Regions from separate parts of the Homo sapiens genome. Here all the other regions are linked to region 1. The links come from fine-mapping of genetic effects on gene expression. A gene starts in region 1. Each other region holds a variant in brackets. All regions are shown on one strand. Distances are from middle to middle.

Evidence for each region.
Region 2: its variant is fine-mapped to the expression of RALGDS in nasal epithelium (TOPMed, PIP above 0.99).
Region 3: its variant is fine-mapped to the expression of RALGDS in cerebellar hemisphere (GTEx, PIP 0.93).
Region 4: its variant is fine-mapped to the expression of RALGDS in whole blood (TOPMed, PIP above 0.99). The same link has a PIP of 0.9 or more in T cells and blood mononuclear cells.

The regions. Positions count from the first base shown.
Region 1 is chr9:133,118,285-133,124,328 of GRCh38, forward strand. RALGDS (ral guanine nucleotide dissociation stimulator) reads right to left here and starts at 2,956. Exons shown (of 18, transcript NM_006266.4): 1 at 2,688-2,956. The coding sequence starts at 2,870. RefSeq lists an enhancer at 1,860-2,556 and a silencer at 2,536-3,245.
Region 2 is chr9:133,095,248-133,101,291 of GRCh38, forward strand. It overlaps RALGDS (ral guanine nucleotide dissociation stimulator), which reads right to left. Exons shown (of 18, transcript NM_006266.4): 17 at 5,021-5,135; 18 at 2,475-3,515. The coding sequence ends at 3,340. Among named protein-coding and RNA genes, the nearest start is that of RALGDS, 23 kb to the right of the region's middle. RefSeq lists an enhancer at 5,955-6,044. The variant G/A (reference allele first, on the strand shown) is at 3,466.
Region 3 is chr9:133,078,047-133,084,090 of GRCh38, forward strand. It overlaps the pseudogene CELP. Among named protein-coding and RNA genes, the nearest start is that of CEL, 19 kb to the left of the region's middle. The variant T/TG (reference allele first, on the strand shown) is at 3,414.
Region 4 is chr9:133,140,926-133,146,969 of GRCh38, forward strand. It overlaps a transcript of RALGDS not described here. Among named protein-coding and RNA genes, the nearest start is that of GBGT1, 20 kb to the right of the region's middle. RefSeq lists enhancers at 1,384-1,663, 1,714-1,763, 2,163-2,292, 2,343-2,432, 2,885-3,444 and silencers at 3,591-3,690, 3,721-3,840. The variant T/C (reference allele first, on the strand shown) is at 3,594.

The DNA of each region.
Region 1 (6,044 bases):
GATTAAACCGAAGACCTGCACACAGTGTGATCAAGAGATCAAACAGTGGGAAGACGCGGGAGGCTGAAGGGAGATGCTCCCTGTGAATACAGAGAAGCCCTCTTCACTCCAGCCCACCTGCAACTGCCCTCAGGCCTTGGGTCAGAATCCTGGCCCTGCCACTGACCAGCTTGGTCACTCTGTGCAATCTAATTCACCTCTGTTGCCTCAGTGACTTTATCTGTCAAGTGAGCTCTTAACAGTCTTGACCCCAAAAGGAGATGATGCAAATTACTTAGCCAAGGACCTCCCCAAAACCTGCTGGCTCTTATTAGCTGTTATCTTAAACCTGTGGGGTCCAGTTCTGGGCTTGCTTCCTCCAGGTAGCTCTCCCCAGCGTCCTGTGGCCCAAAGCACTTTTGCCTTCCTCTGAGCCATAAGCTTCCCTACTGCTCACCTGACCTCAGGGCTTCTGGGCTGCCTGGGCTTCCTCTGACTCCTGGTGGCTCCTGCACACAGTAGGTGCCACAGAGAACACAGCCCATGCTTAAATCCTGGCTGCGGCCCTTGCTGGCTGCACGGGTGTTTAGGTCAGAGACTTCCCTTCTCTGACCCCCTAGCTTCCTAGAAGGTGGTGTTGGCACCTACTCTGTAGGGTTGGTCTAAGGCAGATGAAGTGAGGGGGTGGCCCACAACCTGCACTTTTTGTCTGGCCAAAGCAACAGCCTGTCCAGAGATGGGGGCACGGACCAGGTCACCTCCAGAAAGCAAGAACTGTGCAGGCCAAGCTGGGTCATTGGTGGCTTGGCTTAGAATCGGGAAGATAAGCGGAAGCCCAGATGTGAGGAGATCTGGCAGCCCAGAGGGAAGCACCGGGTGGAAGCTAGGTAGGGAAACAGGGATGCGGGGGAAGGCAGAAACTGTCTGGTGGTTTCCAGAGAGGACAGGGACCAAGTGCGCAGCGTCAGCTCTGGCAGGCCACATAGACACCAGGAAACCAGCCCCAGGACGGGGGGTGTTGGCAGGAGGGACAGGGACTTCCCCGCCCCCTCCCTTGGGCCCTTGGTAAATGGTCATTGTGTTCAGTTTCCGGCAGTGGCCTCCTCTCCTGCCAGGATCCTGGTTTTCCTGACCCAGCCAGAAGCTTCCCCTTTGATTTCTAAATAGCAGTCGAGGTCTGGATCTCAGTGCTGAGGCTGGGCAAGGAGCGCCAGGGCCAGAGAGAGGGAAGACAAGACCCCCAGGCAGGGGTGGGGCTCAGCTCTGCCTCTCCCTCAGTTCCTCAGGGACGGAGAGAGGGAACCTGCACGGCCACTGTGAGCGCTCCGCCGGACCCTCCCAGCACACAAAGCCCGAGCTGCTGCCAGAGGTAATGAAAGCCAGATGAGCGCTGGGCTGGTGTCAGCCTCCCACCCCCACCCTCCCAGGGGTCCCTCTCCAGCCGCCAATGAGGACCAGAGCCCTGGATAGATGAGGGTTGAGGGAACACGTCTGGTCCGGCCATCTGCCAAGCTCAGGAGGAAAGGGTCTCTCAGGCGTGTGGTGTTCCCCCACCAAGAGCTCTGCCCAACACTGGGCGGAGAAACAAGTCGCATCCAGGCCCTGTCTAGGTACCGGGACACCAAGAGGCACGAGACTCAGGCTAACAATCGCCAGCAATCACAACGCGCCACAGTCTAAAGCCATGAAGCGACTGGAGACGCAGCAAGGCAACACGATGCCGCACGGGGACTCAGGAGGTTCACTGTGAAGGCTGCAGCCCAGCCAAAGCTCTGATGGGCCCTGAGCCCCCGATCCAGGAATGGCCTCTGTGCAGGCCCTGTGCCCAGGCAGAGCAGGGCGAGGGGGGCATCTCTGGATTCCACTCCCTCTGCTGTGTAGTCAGCAGCAGTCAGGTGGGAGGCAGATGGCACCACCCAGAGACCCAGGGCACACGAGAAACAAGCCCCCGCCCTCACCTAGTCACCCTCCCCTCCATCCATCACAGGTACACCACTCCCTTCTCTGAATCCTACCCAGTCCTTACCGATTCAGGGTGTTGGCACTCTTTCCAGTTAAGCAGAAACAAGTCTTGCCCGCCCTGGGCCTGGGCCACCCTCCTCCCCTCACCACCAGGACATCTGGTCCCACGTGTTGGAGGCCTGCTGCTCCACCCCATCCCCCGACCCCCCCCCCACCCCGCTCTGAGCAGCCCCGATGTCCCTGGTCACCAGATCCACATCTGCCCCAAGTAGGGTCTGTCTGGAAGGCCCCTATGGTCTCATCACCTCTGAGGATTCTAGGATTTGGCCTTCCCGACCACTTGTTCCACACCTGCATCGTAAAGGCTAACGACGCGCTGCGGGCCCTGGGTGGGAACTGAGTGAAATAAGGCACAGGCCACCGATGTAAACAGGGACAGTGCCGCAGAAAAAGGTCCACCTGGGCTGCAGCGGCCTTGGTGACAGCAGGCCCTGGAACGGTATTGAGGGGCGCAAAACCCCAGCCGTGGTCCCTACTGTTGGACGGGGCGCGGCGGCAGCCCCCACTGCCCACCCTGCTGGCTGATTTCTGCAGAAGGCCCCGACCCCCACCTATGGAGGAGAGAGGAGGGAGGCGGCCCGCTGGGATCGCCCGGCCCCGTCCGGGGCTCGCCCCGACCTGCCCAGCTCTGCCGCGGGTGGGGAGGCTCCGACGCACCCCCCGCCCGACCGCCCCAGCTCACCCACCTCCGGGCGCGGCAGGTCGGGGTCTAGCTGCGTGAAGCTGTGCAGCACCACCGGGCAGCTGTCGGGGACGCCCACCTCCAGGCGCACGGCGTCCCACACGCTGCGGCTCCGCCGGGAGCCCGGAAACAGCGGCTCGGCGCCGCCAGCAGGCCCGGCCGCCTCGGCCCACATGCGCTGCACCATGGAAGGCTCGCAGCGCGGGCGCGGGGCCGGCCCGGCGCGCGGCGGGGGCGGCGGCGCGGCCCGCGCGGCTGGGCTTTGCCACCGCTGTGAGCCCGCGGCCCGGCCCTGCTGATGTCAGGCTGGGGGGCGGGGCCGGAGGGGAAGAGGGTGGGGCCGGGGAGGGGCGGAACCGGAGAGTCCGAGGGACGCGTGCGTGCGCGCGCCCGCGGCCCCGCCCTCGCCGAGGTCAGACCCGGGGCGGGACCGGGAGCCTGGAGGGGCGGGGTCTGAACAAAGAGGGCGGGGCCGGGGAGGTCGAGGGGTGCGCGTTGGCTGGGTCTCCCGGAGGACCGGCTGTCACGTGTGTCGTGGGGCCTTGGGTACCCCGGTTAGGCACCGTTTGCGTGTCACGCTGCTGCAGTGCGTGTGTTGCGTAGGGCTGAAATGTGTACGTGCTGATCATGTGTGGGGAAGCCGCCCTGGAGTCAGCTACCCCGAATTCCAGCAAAGCCTCTCCCCAACTCTGTGGCCTTCCACAAGTTGCTTAACCCCTCTGAGCCTCACTGTTTCTTCATCTGGAAAATCTGGGTAGTGAAAATGACTTCCTCAAACAGTTGCGGGGAGGATGACATTACGTAATGGACATGAAGCACTCAGCACTGAGCACCTGCACCTGACTACAGGCTCAGGCGGAGTTTGGAGAGGCTGACCATGTGTTCAGTGACCCTGTCAGTGCAATTGGAAATCCTGAGTGTGGGGCTGTGTGTGCAGTGGGGGAAAGGGTCAGAGAGTGGGGCCCTACCTTTTTGGGGCAAAGCCCCACACTATCCCCTTACAGACACCCTCAGAGGAGGGGAAGCCAGGGAGGTGGGGGAGAGCGGAAGGCACCAAGGTTGGGGCTGAGAGGCATCTGACAAGGAGGAAGGCATCAAGAGTGACAACGCTGGGCAGAGCACATGGCTGCGTGGCCTGTCAGCTGGGGCTGCTTGTGGCTTGGACATCCCTGGTCTCAGGGTGGAAGTGGGGCTGCTGGGGCTGAAGGGGAAGCAGGGACAGGGACATCCTCAACTACTCTTTCTGGAAGCCAGTGAGGAAGGAAGACAGCCTGGGGCTTAACAGCAGGGCCAGGAGAATGGATGAATGAATGGGACCCTTCCTCATGCCTCACTCATCACTGGGCCTGCCCTGGCCTCAGCCTTCAGTCTTCATGGAGGCCAGCAATTGCTGCCAGCAGCCCTGGCCATGCCAACCTCCCCAGGTCTGGTCCGTACTATTGGGCCTCAGTTTCTCCATCTGTAAACTGAGAGGGCGGGACCAGACAGCACATTCCACGAGCACATCTTGCCCCCTTCCCAAGTGCCAATCCTCAGACACCCACGAAACACTTCCACTGTGACTGGAGTGAGGCGGCAGTTCATCCGTTCAGAACAAGACCCCCATGTGCACACGACTAGAAGGGCCTACTTCACAAAAATTATGGTGGTAAGTTGCAGCTGGGTGGAAGCTCTACTGGTTTTCATTTTACTTCTCTGAATTTCTAATTTCTAAAATCAGTATTTTAATAATCAGCTCTATGTGATAAATGCTGTTTTTGAGACAGTCTCACTGTCACCCAGGCTGGAGTGCAGTGGTGTGATCTCGGCTCACTAAGGCCTCCGCCTCTTGGGGTCAAGTGATTTTCCTGCCTCAGCCTCTCGAGGAGCTGGGATTATAGGCACCTGCCACCATGCCCAGCTAGTTCTGTATTTTTCGTAGAGACAGGGTTTCACCATGTTGGCCAGGCTGATCTTGAACTCCTGACCTCAAGTGAACCGCTCGCCTCGGCCTCCCAAAGAGCTGGGATTACAGGCAGGAGCACTACGCCCAGCCTGTTTTTGTTTTTTTTTTAAGAAGCAAGATGGGTAGATTTGATTTGGGATGGAGATCCCTAGAGGCTGTTTAGGAAGCCTCCAAGCCGTTTGGCCAGGGAGGGTAATGTGGGTGAGGCGTATTTCGAGGCAGGAGGTCCCCACAGGGCCACAAAGAGGTGACCGAGACACTGCCCTCGGCCCTAAGCTCCTCCTCCCATCCCTTTCTTCTGGGGCCAAGCTCCCAATGCCTCCGGAAACTGAAAGTCCAGAAGCTGCCTGCCACTGACTTTATCTCCTCTGCTCTCTTTATCTCCTTCGCTGAGTGATGGGCCTGGGAACAAGCGCCCACCCGTTTTATAGCCCAGAAGGACAAGTGACTCATGAGGACATAGAGGAATCACCACTATTCTGGCCTTGAAGGTCCTGGGTGCTGGGGCGAGGGGTGGCCCCAAGGAGGCTGGAGTGGTGAAGAGTAAAGAATTCATCACACTAAACCCCCCAACGCGGCTGGCCTGGCTCCCTCCCATCTGACTATATCATCTACAGGAGCCAGGGCGGGGGAGGGCGTTACTTAGCCAGTCCCTCTGGCCGGTGTCTGTTTTTACAAAGTTCCTCTTCCTGCCTTGTTCCCCTACCTTTGGGACTCACCTCCCAACTTCTGGGAAGCCTGATCACTGCTCTGGCTGTACATGAGACACACACACACAGACAGACACAAAGATACACAGAGATGCACACACAGAGACACACACATAGAGACAGAGACACAGACACACACACACACACAGAGACACAAAGATACACAGAGATGCACACACAGAGACACACACAGAGAGACAGAGACACAGACACACACACACACACACAGACACACAAAGATACACAGAGATGCACACAGAGACACACACATAGAGACAGAGACACAGACACACACACACACACAGAGACACAAAGATACACAGAGATGCACACACAGAGACACACACATAGAGACAGAGACACAGACACACACACACACACAGAGACACAAAGATACACAGAGATGCACACACAGAGACACACAGAGAGACAGAGACACAGACACACACACACACAGACACAAAGATACACAGAGATGCACACACAGACACACACATAGAGACAGAGACACAGACACACACACACAGAGACACATACATAGAGACAGAGACACAGACACACACACAGACCCACAGAGACACATAGAGACAGAGACACAGGCACACACACACACACATAGAGACAGACACAGAGACACAGACGCACAGAGACAGACACAGGCACACACATTTAGAGACGGAGACACACACACAGAGACATTGGAACA
Region 2 (6,044 bases), 23 kb before region 1:
TCTTAAACATATAACAATCTAGTTTCAATAATACCAATTGAATTTAAGTAGTATACACTGCTATTACACATCTTCCCTCTGTCAGTCACAGATTATATCTTTATACATTGTTTCCATTAATGTGGATTTATAGCTTTATGAATTTTACCTTTAAATCATAAGAAAAAAGGATGAGTTACACAAATCCAAAGTGAAATAACACTGGCTTTGCTAACTACCTGTTAGTTATCTCTACCAGTGTTCTTTAGTTTTTCATATGGCTTCAAGTTACTGTCTAGTGTTTATTTTAGCTGGAAGGACTCCCTTTACCATTTATTGTAGGGCAGGTCTACTAATAAAACTCCCTTAACTTTTATCTGAGAATGTCTTAATTTCTCCTTCATCCTTAAAGGATGTTTTGCTTCTTCTTTCAGCACTTTATTTTGAGAATATTTTTTGAGACGGAGTCTTGCTCTGTCGCTCAGGCTGGAGGGCAGTGGTGCGATCTTGGCTCACTGCAACCTCCGTCTCCCGGGTTCAAGCGATTCTCCTGGCTCAGCCTCCAAATAGTTGGGACTATAGGTATGTGCCACCATGCCTGGCTAATTTTTGTATTTTTAGTAGAGACAAGGTTTCACCATGTTGGCCAGTTTGGTCTCGAACTCCTGACTTCAGATGATCTGTCCACCACGGCCTCCCAAAGTGCTGGGATTACAGGTGTGAGCCACCATGCTCAGCCTTCTTTCAGCACTTTAAATATGTCATCCTATTACCTTCTAGACTCCATGGTTTCTGATGAGAAATCAGCTGTTAATCCTGAGGATCTCTTGTATATGATGAATCTCTTCTTGCTGCTTTCAAGATTTTCTGTCTTTTGACAATTTGACTAATAAATTTGGGTATGGATCTGAGTTTATCCTGTTTGAAACTCATTGAGCTTCTTGGATATGGAGATTTATGTCTTTCATCAAATTTGGGACGTTCTGGACCATTATTCAAATAATCTCTGCCTTTTCTGAACTCTCATTAAATGTATGTTGGTACATTTAATGGTGTCCTACAAGAACCTCTAGTTCTGTTCATTTTTCTTCCTTTTTCTTTCTGTTCCCTGGACAGAATAATCTCTATTGCCTTATCTTCCAGTACACTGATTCTTTCTTCTGCCTGCTTAAATCTGCTGTTGAATCTCTCTAGTACATTTTTCTTCTCAGTTATACTTTTCAGCTCCGGAGCTTCTGGTTGGTTTTTATAATTTCTATCCCTTTATTGCTAATCACCCATTTGCTCATACATTATTTTCCATGGTTTCCTTTAGCTCATCAAGCATATTTAGGACAAGTGATTTAATGTCTCTGACTAGTAATTTTAATGTCTGAGCTTCCTCAAGGATAGCTTCTGTTAAATCCTCTTTTCCCCTGTGAATGAGCCATATTTTTGTTTCTTTGTAATTTTTTGAGAACTGAACATTGAGTATTATAATGCAGTGACTCTGGAAATCAGATTGTCTCCCTCCTCAGGAATTGCTTTTTTGCTTATTGAAGGATGCAGTCTTCTGTGTCCATAGTGACTTTTCCAGGCTTATATTCGTATTTTTGCCAGGCTTATATTTGTATTCCTTGTTGTGTATAGTCACGAAGTTTCTGTTCTGTTGTCTCTTGGTCAGCCTGTGACTTGATGGAGATCCTGTTAACTGTTGGAGTTCAGCAGCATCTCCCTTCACCAAGTGTTCCCCTGGTGACTATGTCCGACCAGGTTCCAGAGTCCCAAAACAGTTTATTCTGATAGTTTTCTTTCTTCCAGCTTAATCGTTGTTTCTGTGCAAAAACTGAACCCTGGGGCCTCCTACTCTGCCATCTTTTGTCACAAATGTTACTTTATTATTATTATTTTTTGAGACAGAGTCTCACACTGTTGCCCGGGCTGGAGGACAGTGGCGTGATCTCAGCTCCCTGCAACCTCCGCCTCCCAGGTTCAAGCGATTCTCTTGCGTCAGCCTCCCGAATAGCTGGGATTAAAGGTGCCTGGCACCATGCCTGGCTAATTTTTTTTATTTTTAGTAGAGATGGGGTTTCACCATGTTAGCCAGGATGGTCTCGATCTCCTGACCTCATGATCCACCTGCCTTGGCCTCCCAAAGTGCTGGGATTACAGGCATGAGCCACCACGCCTGGCCACAAATGTTACTTTTAAAGACAGCTAAATTTCAGAAATTCTTGCTATGCCTTGTGAAAGTACCTCCAAACTCTAGTCCCAGGAGTTCTGAGGGCTGTCTCAGCACATTTCCCAGTTTAATGGTGCCAAAAGGAACATCTGCTGTATGAAAGGTAAACTTTTGTGTTTCCTTCAGTGTGCTGAGAAGAGTGGCTGGCTTTTCCTGTGCATAAAATAACTGGATAACCCTGCAAGGGTCCTTACTTAAACACGGAATGTGAGAGTCTCTATCTCATTTTAATTAAGACAGGTAATGAAAGAACAAAACTGTAATGACCAGGGTATAGTAGAAACAGGATTTTAATATAATATTCAAGTCTAGCATTTGCTATTTACAACAAATAAATATTGCCCCTCCCCAATCAGTAAACAAACATTTTTTTTTTCTTTTTGCTTTTTATACAAATATTCAATCACCCCACCCCCACCCCAAATCCTCCTTCCTCACTAACCCCCGTCTTGCATGGTCTCGTAAAGCCCAGGACGCAGTGGTGAATGGCACTTGCAGTGGCATGAGATTCAACATCGATGGGACTCAGCTGGGACTGTCCTCACTCACCGGGTGCAGAGTCTGGTCCATGAAGAGGGTTTCTCTCTCTGCTCCCAGGGGAGGGCTGGGGTAAGCGGTGGGTGAGACTCCCTCACTCTCAGTTGGCCCTGATGATGGAATCTTTGGTGCAGCCTGAGAAAGGCTAGAGTGGTGGGAGGGGCCGGGACCCCTGCGAAGGTCACAGGCCAGTGCCTGTGGGCATGAGAGAACTGCAGTGGTCACAGTGGGTGCTCTGGGGTGCCCATGGGCACAGGTGGCAGTGACCCACACCTGGGAAGGTGTCAGGGAAGTGTACAGAGGTGGCGCCCGGGGGCAGGCAGGGCACCATGCCATGCCCGTTGGCACTGCTCCTTGGCAAAAGTCAGCTAGTCCTCTGGTTCCAGAGAGCAGAAGGCACCTAAGGCAGCGAGTGGTCCACGGGAGGCCAGGTCAGCCTGACCAATGGCAGGCGTCAATCCCAGCAGCGGGAGAGGTTCAGGATGAAACTGGAGTCTGGGGTACCCTGGGCTGGCAGGTGGGAGGAAGGCGCCCAGCTGGCCTGGGCCACTCTGGTCCATAAGTGCTTGGCTACCAGCCAGCCAGACCCTGGGAGGATGCCCTCAGAAGATGCCCTTGGCAATCTTGAGTCCTTTCTGCTTCATGCGAGGGAGGGTGGAGCTGGCTCCGTGCTTGACCTTCACTCCCTTGGTGAAGGTCCGCTTCTTGAGGACAAAGTCATAGTTGGC[G/A]GTAGAGTTCATGGCATAGAAGACGTTGGCGTTTTCAGGGATCTTCAGCTCTGGTGGGGAGGGGCAGAGGGGTGATCAGGGATGCTCCTGGGGGCCCTGCAGGATACCCCTACCGCTTGAGAGCCCATACAAGGACTGTCTTGAGCCACAGACCTCAGATCCCCTCCAATACAGCTCCAGAACTCCAAGGACCCCTCTCAATGACTCCTGCCTGAGGACAGACTCTGCTGAGGTCCTCACAAAACCTGATGACTCTTGTTTAAACAGGGACTGACTCCAGAACCCCCCGGCTTGGCCTGAGCTGGCAGAGGGTCACCCCGTCCTGCCCATACTGCAGTGCTGGCTGCCCACCTGGAACAGGCTTTCTAGAATCCAGGTCACCTCCCAGAATCCTGCCCTACTCAGGACAAGGGATCCAAGGACCAGGAAAGGACAGGCCTGCCCCAGGGCTCTGGCGCCCGTTCCAGGGAGGCCTGTACTCCTTGAACCCTGGCACCCGGCAAGCACTTCCTTTTGGCTCCATTTCCCACCATCTCCTCTGGCCCACAGCCTGCTATAAACCAGAGCTGGGCTCGATTTGTGCTCCTGCCGACATCGTGTGGCTTTTCGTCATCTTTAACCTCTCTAGGCCTCAGTCTTCCTTTTCTGTAAGATGGGGGTCCCGCCTACCCTGCCCACCTAACCGAAATGGTGCAAGAAGCTGCCAGAGGATTTAGACTGTAACTTCTAGGGATCACAGGAGTCATTGCTTACTGTCTGGGCTAATGGTGGGAGGTGGTGTTCAGCTCACTGGAAAGAAAACAGCGATGATAGTATTTATAGTTAACTTTTATGGTGCACATAGATGCTTTATATATACATGCATATATATACACACACATATACATGCATATATATACACACACATATACATGCATATATATACACATATATACATACATATACACATATATACATACATATAGATTTTTACATATATGATGAACACACTGGCTACTTTCATTTCCATTTGGGGGATGAGAAGACAAGCACAGAGGGCTTAAGGAGCTTGCCCAGCGTCTCCAGGCCCAGGATACCCCACTCTGAGCCTGCACTGGTTCTTGACACTTTCCCAGTTTCTAGAATACTGAGTTGGCCTCCTAGTAGCCTGTTCTGCTTTTAGAATCACACACTCATGGATTTTAACACTTGACACTTTGGTCCACAGCTGTCACCATTCTTTGTAGAGCACATGTTTTCTTGTCTTAGCCAGAAAGAGTCCCTTCCAGTGGGCCACGTGGCTAACCTGTCCCAGTGAAAAATGCCTTTTCTCTTTGCTCCTCACTGATGTGAGCTTTGAACTGCCTGTTCACGCCTAGGGAAGGGCACACACTGGGGAGGTCCAGTGGTTGCTGGGGACAGCAAGCAGACAATGGGGGCAGCCAGGGCTGCCCTGTCCACAGTGTCTACCCACACTCTGCTGGTGAATTTTCTGGGGCCAAAGGCTTCCAACCTGGGGCTGGGGAGTGGTGTGGACCTGCCCCCTCTGCCATCGCCCTCTGGTCTTCTGACTTACTCCGGTCATCTGAGAGAATCTGCAGCAGCTCATAGTCCTCCGGCTCCTCCTCCTCCAGGTTGTGTTTGTCCATGGCCTTGCGGATTACAGCCGGAGCCTTATCTTGGCTGGTCACCTGCATCGCGGCGGGGGATGGACCATCAGGGAAAAGACCCTGGAGCGGCTCCCCCAGAGTGCAGTGGCCAAGGACCCTCTGGAGTCCCCTCAGCACCAAGCACAGGCACTCACAGCCTCTGGCCAGGTGCTGGGTCCGGAGAGGGCCTTGTCACATTCTCCTACTCCCCAAGTGAGGCCTCCGTCCTTCTGTTCCCCATGTGAGGCCTCCATGGAATGAGGAGGGGTCTGTCCCAGCAGTGCCTACCCTGCTTCTCCTGTAAGAGACTGTTCCCTCCTCCCACACTTCCTTGAGAAGCACTTGCCCCTCCAGGATAACAGCATCACTGAGCCTGGGGAACAGACAGTCCCTAGTCCAAGCCCTGGAGGTAAGAAAGGAGGGGCCGGCCAGGATGCTCAGTGTGGTCAGCATAGGCCAGGCCCCTGCTACCTTGACCCTGAGGGCCAGAGCACAGGCGGAACTCGGACATAGGGCCACAGGTGACTGCTTAATGACAACCATGCTAGCTCCTGGCAATGAGGGGTCAGGAGCGTGTGTGAATAATGGGGCACCTGACCCAGGGCTGGGGTACAGAGGGTGGGGGTTACAAATGGTTCATCTGTCGCAGGACACCTGGAGGATGAAGAAAGAGCCCCCAGGCAAACCCATTCTGTGAGCAATTCCCATCTGCTGTCTCCAAATCCTGTCTAGACTCTGACCCTGCTGGCCCCTTCCAGGGCTCCCAGCCTGGTTGCCACAGCGGCCTCCTAACCAACACCCCTGCGGCTCTGGTACCAGCCCACACCAGACAGAGAAGCCAGCCATCATTGCTCCTGTCTTCCTCCCCGAGAAAGTCGAGGTCCTGGCAGGGCTCAGGGCCTATGTGGCCAGGCCCTGGATACTTCCCTGACCTCACCTCCCCTACAGCAC
Region 3 (6,044 bases), 40 kb before region 1:
GTTAACTGACAAATATCAAAGTATATGGCTATAGCCCCCCCTGGGGGGTAGAGGCTTGGCTTTGATTTATAAGACTTCCTTTCTTTGACTCAGTATGAACCTCAAACCAAGTCCTAGGTAAAGACTTAGAAGGTCATAGCATATATAAGGCTGGCCATTTCCTGGGTCACAAATTGAATAGGTGATCCGATTGTAAGTACAAGTTCCTAGGTGAGTCCCTGTACACTCCTAATAAGTATAGAATAATAGAGTCCTAGTTATACTGTTTCCTGACCCTGTAGTGTGTGTACAATGGGGACACTTTCTAAGGGTACTTATTTTAACATGGTCAAGGGGGGTGATAACAGCAAAACAATGTACAGCGTATTCATATCCAGCAAGGACAGAAGAGGGCCTTGCCTGGGGGAGGAGATTGAGCACAGCAACGGAACAATAGTAAAACAGTTAGTATTATAAGGAAGACTACTAGTCCTAAGATTTCTAACCACATTTACTTGCTTGACGAGTCCTCAAGCTTCGGCCGTGCGTAGACTAGTCAGCTTCGGGTGTGTGACTAGAGCGGGGCTTGTCTCCTTAAGCTTCAGCCGTGCGTTGACTGGTCAGCCTCACGAGTGACCAGAGCAGGGTGATCGTCCTCAGCAGCAGCTTGTTGTCTTCTCAGGATCAGCTGGGTTGGATGATCTGTGTCCTGCTGGCTGGTCCACTCGTCCTGAGCTGCCGGTTTCAGCCGACTGTGGTGGATCCAAGACATAACACCTGCAACTTTAACAGCAACGGGAGTGGACAAGATGACAGTACAGGGCCCACCCCATATGGGTCCTAGAGAAGTTGGATTCCACTTTTTAACCCAAACAGAGTCTCCAGATTTAAAGGGGCACACTGGTCTATCAGGCTTACAGGCATCCTTTCTTGTACCCAGCCATGGACCTCTTGCATGGCTATTCCTAAAGCCTGCATTTGCTTTCTTAAGGTTAATTCCTCTAGTTCCTGGAGATCACCTTTAATTTGACCTATGATTTGGGGTTGGCCAACTGAACAAAACCTCATAGGGTAAATACTCAGTTTGTTTGGTGGGGGTGCACCTGTCTCGGAGGAGGACCATAGGCAAAACCTGAACTTATCTCAGATGAGCTTCCTGGCAATATTTCTTCAGTAGCTGCTTGAGTGTCCACTTCATGCGTTCCACTTTTCCTCAACTATGCAGCCAATAGGCTGTGTGTAACTTCCATTTTATTTTTAACAGTCTTGTTAAATCTCGTACTATTTCAGCTACAAATGCCGGCCCATTGTCTGACTGTAAAGATAGAGGCAGTCCAAACCTGGGGATAATATCTTTTAACAGTACTTTAGTCATTTGTCGTGCTTTTTCTGTCCTGGTGGGGAAAGCTTCAACCTATCCTGAAAAAGATGCAAATAAACACTAGAATATACCGATAGCTTCTGGCACGGGGCATTTCGTTTAAGTCTATAAGGAAGTTTTCACAAGGCATGGCTCCTTCTCCTGTTCTGTTTCCCAGAGGAGGGGTTCCTTTTCTCCTCTTTTTGTAACTTCATATAATAGCTCAGCCATCAGCGAGAAATCTGGAATCCAGATACGGCAGAATCCTGCTGCCTTCAACTTCTAATGTGACCACAGACTCCTGGAGGCCCAGTGAGAAGGAGCCCGGTCTGTCCTAGTCCTCACATCCTTCAGCTCCTGCCAGCCCAATCAGATTAGTATCTGGTTCCTCTAAGGTATGGCAGCCCTTGGCCAATGGCCTCTTTGTCTCACGGCCTTGGCCATTTCCCTCATTGCCTTCTGGACATTCATCCTTCCAGTGCCCCCTTTTTTTTTTTTTTTTTTTTTTTTTTTTGCATCTCTCACATTGATCCCTCTCTAGCCTTGGTCAGCTCTTAAATCCTTGTCTAACTTGACCTCTTCCACGTCCACATCTGCGTCCACATCCTCTCACATGGCTAATTTCTCTTTCTATAAGGGCTGCTGCCAACAGATCCGCCTTTTTCTTAAGCCTTTCATCTGCTTCCTTTTCCCTTCCTTAGTTCTCCTGCTCCTGCAGTCGGCTGGCAGGGCTGGGCAAGGACAAACCTGAATATAAAATTCAGTGTGTCTGCTGCCCACCAGTCCTTTATGCTTGGAGAAGAGAGAGATGTTTCTCTTTTTCCTCTCTTCTATCTATTAAACCTCCGCTCCTAAAGTCCTCGTGTTTGTCCCTGTCCTAAATTTTCCTGGTGCATGACGACAAACCCCGGGTATGTAGACCAGACAATGTAGCCGCTTCAAGGGATTTGAGTGAGGAAGGAATGAATCAATGGAGCCCAGGGGGGTTTTAGAGCATTCAAACTATTCAGGATGATACTATGGGGACCAAGGGAGAGCTTTCCCCTTCTCCCTCTGAAGGACCACTGAAAAATCACTGACAGATTGTCTCATAGGAGAAAAGCATACATATTTGTTTAATGCGTATACACGGGAGCCTTTGAAATGGAGACCCAACTTCTCAACAGAGTACAGAGCTTAGATACCATCTTGAGGTTCCACAAAGAATGTGGGCTCAGAGCATGGCCAAAACTAGGTTAGGGGCTGGGCGCAGTGGCTCACAACTGTCATCCCAGCACTTTGGGAGGCTGAGGCGGGCAGATCACTTGAGCTCAGGAGTTCGAGACCAGCCTGGCCAACATGGCGAAACTCCCTCTCTACTAAAAATACAAAAATTAGCCGGGTGTGATGGCGGGCGCCTGTAATCCCAGCTACTTGAGAGGCTAAAGCAGGAGGATCCCTTGAGCCCAGGAGTTCAAGACTGCAGTGAGCTGTTATTGTGCCACTGCCCTCTAGCCTGGGTGATAGTGAGACCCTGTCTCAAAACAAACAAAAAAACCCCTAAATCTGTGGACTCTGGGTGATTATGACATGTCAATGTAGGTTCATAAAGTATAACAGCTGTACCCCCTGGTGGGGGATGTTGATAATGGGGGAGACTGGGTTGGGGCGAGGACATACGGGAAATCTCTGTAACCTTCTTCTAATTTTGCTGTGAACCTAAATCTGCTCTAAAAATGTATATATATAAAAAGTGGGGCCTTCCTTTCCCTCTCCCCTGCCCCAGCCCTCTCCCCCACCTCCTTCCTCTCCCTGCTGCCTCCCCTCTGCCCTCCCCTTTCCTCCTTAGCCACTGTAAATGACACTGCAGTGAATATCCTGGAGCACAAAGGGCATGTCTCCCAGTTCAGAATTACCTCCTTTATTTAGGGCAGGTTCTCAGAACTAGAGTAGCCGGGCAAAGGTCTGAGGCAAATGCCTTTGCCCTGGGGCGCCCCAGCCACCTGCAGGCCCCTTATTTCCTGTGGCCGAGCTCCTCCTCCCACCCTCCAGTCCTTTCCCCAGCCTCCCTCGCCCACTAGGCCTCCTGAATTGC[T/TG]GGCACCGGCTGTGGTCGACAGACAGAGGGACAGACGTGGCTCTGCAGGTCCACTCGGTCCCTGGCACCGGCCGCAGGGGTGGCAGAACGGGAGTGTGGTTGGTGTGGGAAGCACAGGCCCCAGTGTCTCCTGGGGGACTGTTGGGTGGGAAGGCTCTGGCTGCCCTCACCCTGTTCCCATCACTGCAGAGGGCTGTGCGGTGGCTGGAGCTGCCACCGAGCGTCTCGGTGAGGGTGACCTCACACTGGCTGAGCTTACAGGCCCCATCTGAAGACTTTGTTCGTGGTGTTCTTTCACTTCTCAGAGCCTTTCCTGGCTCCAGGATTAATACCTGTTCACAGAAAATACGAGTGGCCTCCTCTTCCTCCACAACCTCACAGGACCTTCTCCCTTCCCTCCCGCTGGCCTCCTTTTCTCTCCTGTCACTCTGCCTGGGCATGCCCCAGGGCCTTGGCTGTGTCCTTTCTTTCCTCAGGGAAGACCACAAGTTTGGGCTAGATGCCTCCGCACCCCCCCACCCACACCCCCTGAGCCTCTAGTCCTCCCTCCCAGGATGCATCAGGCTGGATGGTGACATCTCCCCACCCTTGAATGAGACGGCTTTGTGCTGCTCTGGGACCCGCACCCAGCTTGGACTGCTTGCTCCATGGCCCCAGGAAAAGCTCGTACAGATAAGGTCAGCCACTTGGGTGGGGGGCCCACAGCATGTCACCCTCTCTGTCCCAGAAGTCACGTGCTTGGTCCCCTGTGAAGCCCCTCTGGGGACCTAGGGGACAGGCAGGGCATGGAGACAAAGTATGCCCTTTTCTCTGACAGTGACACCAAGCCCTGTGAACAAACCAGAAGGCAGGGCACTGTGCACCCTGCCCGGCCCCACCATCCCCCTTACCACCCGCCACCTTGCCACCTGCCTCTGCTCCCAGGTAAGTGGTAACCTGCACAGGTGCACTGTGGGTTTGGGGAAAACTGGATCTCCCTGCACCTGAGGGTGTAGAGGGGAGGGAGTGCCTGAGAGCTCATGAACAAGCATGTGACCTTGGATCCAGCTCCATAAATACCCGAGGCCCAGAGGGAGGGCCACCCAGAGGCTGATGCTCACCATGGGGCGCCTGCAACTGGTTGTGTTGGGCCTCACCTGCTGCTGGGCAGTGGCGAGTGCCGCGAAGGTAAGAGCCCAGCAGAGGGGCAGGTCCTGCTGCTCTCTCGCTCAATCAGATCTGGAAACTTCGGGCCAGGCTGAGAAAGAGCCCAGCACAGCCCCGCAGCAGATCCCGGGCACTCACGCTCATTTCTATGGGGACAGGTGCCAGGTAGAACGCAGGATGCCCAATTCCATTTGAATTTCAGATAAACTGCCAAGAACTGCTGTGTAAGTATGTCCCATGCAATATTTGAAACAAATTTCTATGGGCCGGGCGCAGTGGCTCACACCTGCAATCCCACCAGTTTGGGAGGCCGAGGTGGGTGGATCACTTGAGGTCAGGAGTTGGAGACCAGCCTGGCCAACATGGTGAAACCCCGTCTCTACTAAAAATACAAATATTAATCGGGCGTGGTGGTGGGTGCCTGTAATCCCAGCTACTCGGGAGGCTGAGGCAGGAGAACCGCTTGAAGCTGGGAGGTGGAGATTGCGGTGAGCTGAGATCACGCTACTGCACTCCAGCCTGGGTGACAGGGCGAGACTCTGTCTCAAAAAATAGAAAAAGAAAAAAATGAAACATACTAAAAAACAATTCACTGTTTACCTGAAATTCAAATGTAACTGGGCCTCTTGAATTTACATTTGCTAATCCTGGTGATTCCACCTACCAACCTCTCTGTTGTTCCCATTTTACAGAAGGGGAAACGGGCCCAGGGGCAGGGAGTGTGGAGAGCAGGCAGACGGCTGGAGAGAAGCAGGCAGGCAGTTTGCCCAGCATGGCACAGCTGCTGCCTCCTATTCCTGTGCAGGAAGCTGAAAGCCGAGCTACTCCACACCCGGGTCCGGGTCCCTCCAGAAAGAGAGCCGGCAGGCAGGAGCTCTCTCGAGGCATCCATAAATTCTACCCTCTCTGCCTGTGAAGGAGAAGCCACAGAAACCCCAAGCCCCACAGGAAGCCGGTGTCGGTGCCCGGCCCAGTCCCTGCCCCCAGCAGGAGTCACACAGGGGACCCCAGATCCCAACCACGCTGTTCTGCCGCCTGCGGTGTCTCAGGCCCTGGGGACTCCTGTCTCCACCTCTGCTGCCTGCTCTCCACACTCCCTGGCCCTGGGACCGGGAGGTTTGGGCAGTGGTCCTGGGCTCCTGACTCAAAGGACAGGTCACCTTCTTCTTGGGCGAGCTCTTCTTGGGGTGCTGAGAGGCCTTCGGCAGGTCATCACGACCCCTCCCCATTTCCCCACCCTGAGGCCCTCAGGATGGACAAGCCCAAACAAAGCAACCCCCACGGCCCCGCTAGAAGCAAAGCCTGCTGTGCTGGGCCCAGTGACAGCCAGGCCCCGCCTGCCTCAGCAGCCACTGGGTCCTCTAGGGGCCCGTCCAGGGGTCTGGAGTACAATGCAGACCTCGCACCATTTTTGGCTGATGGACTGGAACCCAGCCCTGAGAGAGGGAGCTCCTTCTCCATCAGTTCCCTCAGTGGCTTCTAAGT
Region 4 (6,044 bases), 23 kb after region 1:
TGGCACTCCAGCTGGGGGTGGCTGGGCAGAGTCCCCATGGGATCACCCTGAGCCCAGCCGACGACCCCCAAGTGAACATACGAGCCCAGTACCCAACTCCGGAGGTGGGCACACCCCTTGCCCATTTGACAGATGGGGCAAGGGAGGCTCAGAGGGGTGAAATCATGACCCAGGGTCACACAGTGAGCAAATGACCAGGGTCAGACTGGCATCCTGGCTCCATGAGAGCACCGGGAGTTCCTGCAGAGTTGTCACCAACAGTCCTACCCTCACTGCCATCCCCAGAGAGAACATCTGAGGCAACCAGGTCTCATAGCCTTCCCATCCCCAAAGTCCAACCCACTGGGCAGTGTGGCCCCACCTGCCTTTTCCCACCATTCTACTGCCCCACCCTCTCCCAGGGTCTGGGGCTCCACCTCGCTCCTTCCAGGCTGGACACCCCTCATCCATGTTCTCACCTCGGCTCCCGCAGTGCCCAAGTCTGGGTGCAGGGTGGGTGCCCACAAACTAAGGCAGCCCCTATGGGAGCCCAAGGGCAGGGCTTTCTTACACCCTCACAGCAACTGCGGGGACCTCAGGGCAGACAGGGAGGCTCAGAGGGGACCTGTGCTGCTTCTAGGATGCCCAGCAATAAGCGCTGAGCTGGAATTTGGACCCAGGTGTCCTGCTCCAAAGCCACCTGCCTCACCTGAGGACCAGGGGCCTGATGGCCGAGGTGGATGCCGACATGTGAGGAGGAAGGGCAGTGGCGGCCTGGTCCTGGTCCCCTCACTCTCCTGCCCCAAGGCCCCAGTAGGTGACATAATTCACAGGGCAATGTTTATGCACTGAACGGTAAACACACAGGCAGAGGGGTAGATGGGCCACCAATGGGGAAACTGAGGCCAGCGAGAAGGGACACACTAAGGTCACATAGTCAGTCGGTATCAAAGTTGGCCCAGAACCACAGTCCCCTGTTCCAAGGGCTGTACCCAGCCCAACCACAACCTGGCATGCCATCCAGCCCCAGGCCAGGGAGCCCACGGCTGCAGGGCGGCAAAGCACACGGTACCACACGTGGTACCCCATGGCCCCACACACTCTGGCTGGCACCGAGCCATCGCTGTGCTTTCTGACCTTGCGTTTTCTGACATTCTGCCACTGTCAACTCTCACTCAGGTATCCAGGAAGCGGCCTCTGTTGCTAGGGGACTGGCTTGATGCCGGGTGGCTGGCAGAGTGGGGAGATGGGGAGGGGGGAGTGGACTGGGGTGTCCCTCAGGAAGGATCCAGGGGCAGAGTCTACTGGGTCCTGTGTCAGGGTGGAGGGCCATGAGAAGTATCTGAGGAAACTCAGCAGGTCAGGCCCCTTCCTCCCCAGGCTCTAATGAAGGTCCTGGACCCTGGTCTCTGCATTTTCTCTTTCAGCCTCAGAGTCTTCTTTTTGGGCCAGGGGTGGGTGTGCGCTGGTGGGGGTTGGAAGTGAGCCATCGGAAAGCCCATCGGAAAGCCCCAGCCCGGAGCCTTCCTGCAGGCAAGTATTTTGGGGGCCAGCAGTTGCCAAGCAACTGCTCTGGGTTGCCACGGGAACACTCCCTTTTTTCTGGGGCTTGTCATTCTTAGGGGGATGCCACAATGCTTCCCGTTCCCTTTCCTCTCCACTTCCTCACCCTGGCTTGGCTGCCCTGGGAGGGGACACTGGGAGTCCATAAGCTCACACCCCACCCCTATGGGGGGGCCCACATACCCCTGGCCCTAAGACTCTTTGAGGCTCCAGAATCAAGAACCCCCAAAATGCAAAGCCCAGAGTCCAAGGCCTTCATTAGAGCAGGGAGACGATGAAAGGGGCTCATTAGCTCTGTTTATGTCTCCTTGCCGCCATTAACCACCACTTGGGGCCTAGGGCCTCCCAGCCCCGCCCTGCCCAGCAGCCGGGCCCAGCCCTGACCGTTGGAAGGCCACTGTAATTGGAAGGAATGTGGTCCTGGTGCCTGGCCCTTCCCAGGCTTGTGTGCACACGGGGAGGCGCCATTGCCAAGCTGCCACTACCTAGCTGTGGGAGTTCCTTCCCCTTCCAGTGCCTCAGTTTCCCCACCTGGAAGTGAGGATGGCAGTGGCACTTATCTTGCAGAGTGCTGAGCAGATACAAGGGACACTTTAGCACAAGGCCTACAGGCTGGCTGTCATCACCAGGCACCTCTGCAGCAGGGGACAGAGGGAAGGACTCTGTGGAGAATAGTCCTGTGGCTAGCGTGCAATGGTGACTGACCACGCCACTGATGGCAGAGTGGCCACTGAATCCAGGTCCCCAGGCTCGCAGCCCATGCCTTCTCCACAAGATCTGTCTGCCCCATACCCCTGAGCCTTCCACAGAAGCCAGGGTGCTTCCCACAGGCCAGGCACCCAGCGCCAGCCAGGTGTACAGAGGCCAGTATCTGCTGTGTGAATCAATCGCTGAACCAACTGTCAAGGACCAGCAGCCTCAGGGGCGGGCCTGGTAGCTCGGTGAGCGAGGAGGTGGTGGGAGGGCCTTGTGCGGGTAGGGAGGTGACAGTAAGAAATGGCCTCTTGCTGGATGCAGTGTCTCAAGCCTTTAATCCTAGCAGTTTGGGAGGCCGAGGCGGGGGGAATCCCTTGAGCCCAGGTGTTTGAGACCAGCCTGGGCAACATGGTGAAACTGTTTCTACAAAAAAAATCCAAAAATTAGCTGGGAGTGTTGGCGTGCACCTGCCGCCCCAGCTACTCTGGAGGTCTGAGCCCAGGAGGTCGAGGACGCAGTGAGCCGTGATCTGGCCCCTGCACTGCAGCCTGGGCCACAGAGCAAGACCCTGTCTCAATAATAATAATAATAATAATAATAATAATAATAACAACAACAACAACAATAATAATAATAATAATAATAATAATAATAATAAAATAAAGGAATGGCTTCCACTCATTCCACTCCTGGGCCAGCGGCCCGCTGTGCACTCCGCTCCCTTTCGCTGATGCCATGTGAGCAGCTCCATGGCGGGGACCTGACCCCTGCTCCTCAGCCCCACACTGCCTCGCCCCTTTGTATATCAAAGGCGCCTCTGAGGGGCTGTGCTGACCCCCACCAGGAGCAGCAGGACCACCTCAGGCATCCCAGCTCCCCTGAGGCAGGGTCTGGGGCTGGGGTTGGGGGGAAGGACCCCTCAAGTCTCTATCTGCACAGACAGCCCACCCGTGCCCAGGGCTGCCTTCCGAGCACCCGCAGACCTGGGCCTGCAGTAACAGGAGAGCTATCTGCAAACCGCAGTGTCATCAGCCGCACGGCCTCTGGAGAGGCCTGAGAAAGGCCGGCTCAGCTTGCAGGCGAGGAACCAAACGAAAGGCAAACTCCTGGCCCCTGCAGCCTCGCAGGTCCCCTATCCCTCCTCCCTGCCTTCCTTTCCGCCCCGCTGACACCACGGTCTGCAAACCATGGTCCTCCTCGCCACCCCTGTCACCTCCTCCTCCGCCCCCCGCCGGCCTCCGACGCAAAGTCGCCACCCAGTCACCCCGCCTCGGCCCCGCCTGGTTTGATTTCCTCCCGTGTGTGTCACCCATGAGGTGGCCGTGCCCCTGGCCTGTTTACAGCTGTGCGCAAGC[T/C]CCTCGCGACCCGAAAGCGAGACCTTTGTCTGCGGCAGCTCCGCGCCGGGCTGGGCGGCCGCACGGGAGGGCACAGCGCCACCTGCTGGTGCTGCCGCCAGAGCGCGCCAAGCTGAGGAGCAGGCGGGCTCCGCTCACGCCCCCACACCCCCTGGCTGGGGGCTGGGTTCCTGCGATGTCTTCCGACTCCCCGCTGCTCCCCTAGTCCCCGTAGGCACGCGGGTACCCGGCCTTTGGGAGGGGGATCATTCCCAATACTCCTGTTACGGGTTGAACTGTGTCCCTGAACAAAAAGATCTCTGGTACCCGTGAATGAGATCTTATTTGGAAATAGGGTCTGTGCGGATAGAATCCGGATGAGGTCATACTGGATTAGGGTGGGCCTTAATCCAATGACTGCTATCCTTATGATAACAGGGAAAATTGGACAGACACGCACAGGCGGACAGACACGAACTGATGAAGGCACAGTTTGCAGTCACACGTCTACAAAACCAGGAACGAATGCCAAGGAAACTGGCAGCCACCAGAGGTTGGAAGATGCAAGGAAGTATCCTCTCCTAGAACCTTCAGAGACAGCATGGCCTTGCTGACCCCTGGATTTTGGACTTCTGGCCTTTAGAACTGTGAGAGAATACATTTCTGTTGTGTTGAGCCACCCAGCACTTTGTGACAGCAGCCCAGGAAGCTGACCCGATAGACACTGGTCCCAGTCATCACCCTCTGTGCCATCACCACACCTCCCCTCCACGAATCAACCACGACCACAGGACACCTCCTTCTGGAATCTCTCTGTGCCCACGCACTCCCCAGATGAGCACTTCCCCTTCCCCTGGCAACTCCCCGGATTCTTGTTACCCCCACCCCCCGCCCCGGCATGGCCTGGGCCCAGGAGACAGATACGAAATGAATGAGTGAATATCCACCTTTGCTACTTCGTCATATTCAGATGTTCGTAAAAATCTGTATGTTCGTCATATTCAGATGTTCGTAAAAATCAAGTGGCAGCAGTGCTGGGGGTTAAGGAAATGGGGAGAGTGATGGCAGATGTGTGAGGGGAGACAAGGGGCACTTCCAGGTACTCACAGCCACCCTGGGAGCTGGGACAGCCAACCAGTGTGTTCTCATGCTCCCAGCCCCTGAGGCTCAGAGAGGGGAAGCCATCTGGGTCACCAAGCTCCTGCCTCTTGCCAGTTCTGTGACCCCAAACTAGCCATTGTGCCTTTCAGGGCCTCCCCAGTCTCCTGACCTGCACAATGGGGATGGTTCTAACGTCTACTTCCTGGGGACATCACCACGCTAATGTGAGACAATACTACAAAACCTGTTAGCTGCCTCACAGACTTAGAGATGGAAGGATTAGGAAGGAAAAGGGCCTTCAGAGACTGCAGGGTCCTGCTGACCCCTGGATTTTGGACCTCTGGCCTTTACAACTGTGAGGAAAGAAACTTCTCACAGGGGCGAGACACAGCCCGGAATACAAGTCGGACAGGCTGGGCACTGGTGCTGTGATCTGGGGAAAGTCACTCCCTTCTTGGTCTGGTTTCCTCATTTGCACCATGAACGGGTTGAAAATGAAGCAAAAATCAGATATCGGCCCCCTGTGGCATATGGGAGCATCTTCCAATGGGAACACCTTCCAATGGCTCCCATGATGTTTGTTTGTTTGTTTGTTCGTTTGTTTATTGAGACAGGGTCTGGCTCCGTCGCCCAGGCTGGAGTGCAGTGGCATGATCTTGGCTCACTGCACTCATCACCTCCCAGGTTCAAGTGATTTTCCTGCCTCAGCCTCCGGAGTAGCTGGGATTATAGGCACCTGCCGAGACACCCAGCTAATTTTTGTATTTCTTTTTTGTAGAGACGGGGTTTCACCACGTTGGCCAGGCTGGTGTTGAACTCCTGACCTCAGGTGATCCACCCGCCTCGGCCTCCCAAAATGCTGAGATTACAGGTGTGAGCCACCGCGCCCAGCCTCCGTTATGTTTAGAATCAGGCCTGACTGCCTCCTCTCAGACACTGTCCCAGGCAGCCTCCACACTGGCCCCAGAGATCCCTGCCTCCTGGTACATAAGTTGCTGAGTGATCCCCTTCCTCCGAGGGTGATTGGATTTAGTGACTGGCTTCTCACCAACAGAACACAGCACAGGTGATGTGAGGTCACTTCCAAGATTTACAAAAAACTATGACTTCTGTCTTGCTTGTTTGCTCTTGTTTTCCTCCCCACCTTCACCCCTCACTCTGGGGAAGTGAGTTCTGATGCCGTGAGCTGCCTGCCCTACAGAGAGACCCACATGGCAGTGAACCAAGGGAGGGCCCCCACCAACAGTCACAGAAGAACTGATGCCCTCAGTCAAAACTGAATCCTGCCAATAACATGAGAATGGCCTGGGGGCGGGTCCTGCCCAGTCCAGCCATGGATGAGACCCCAGTCCCAGCCTCCCTTGAGACCTG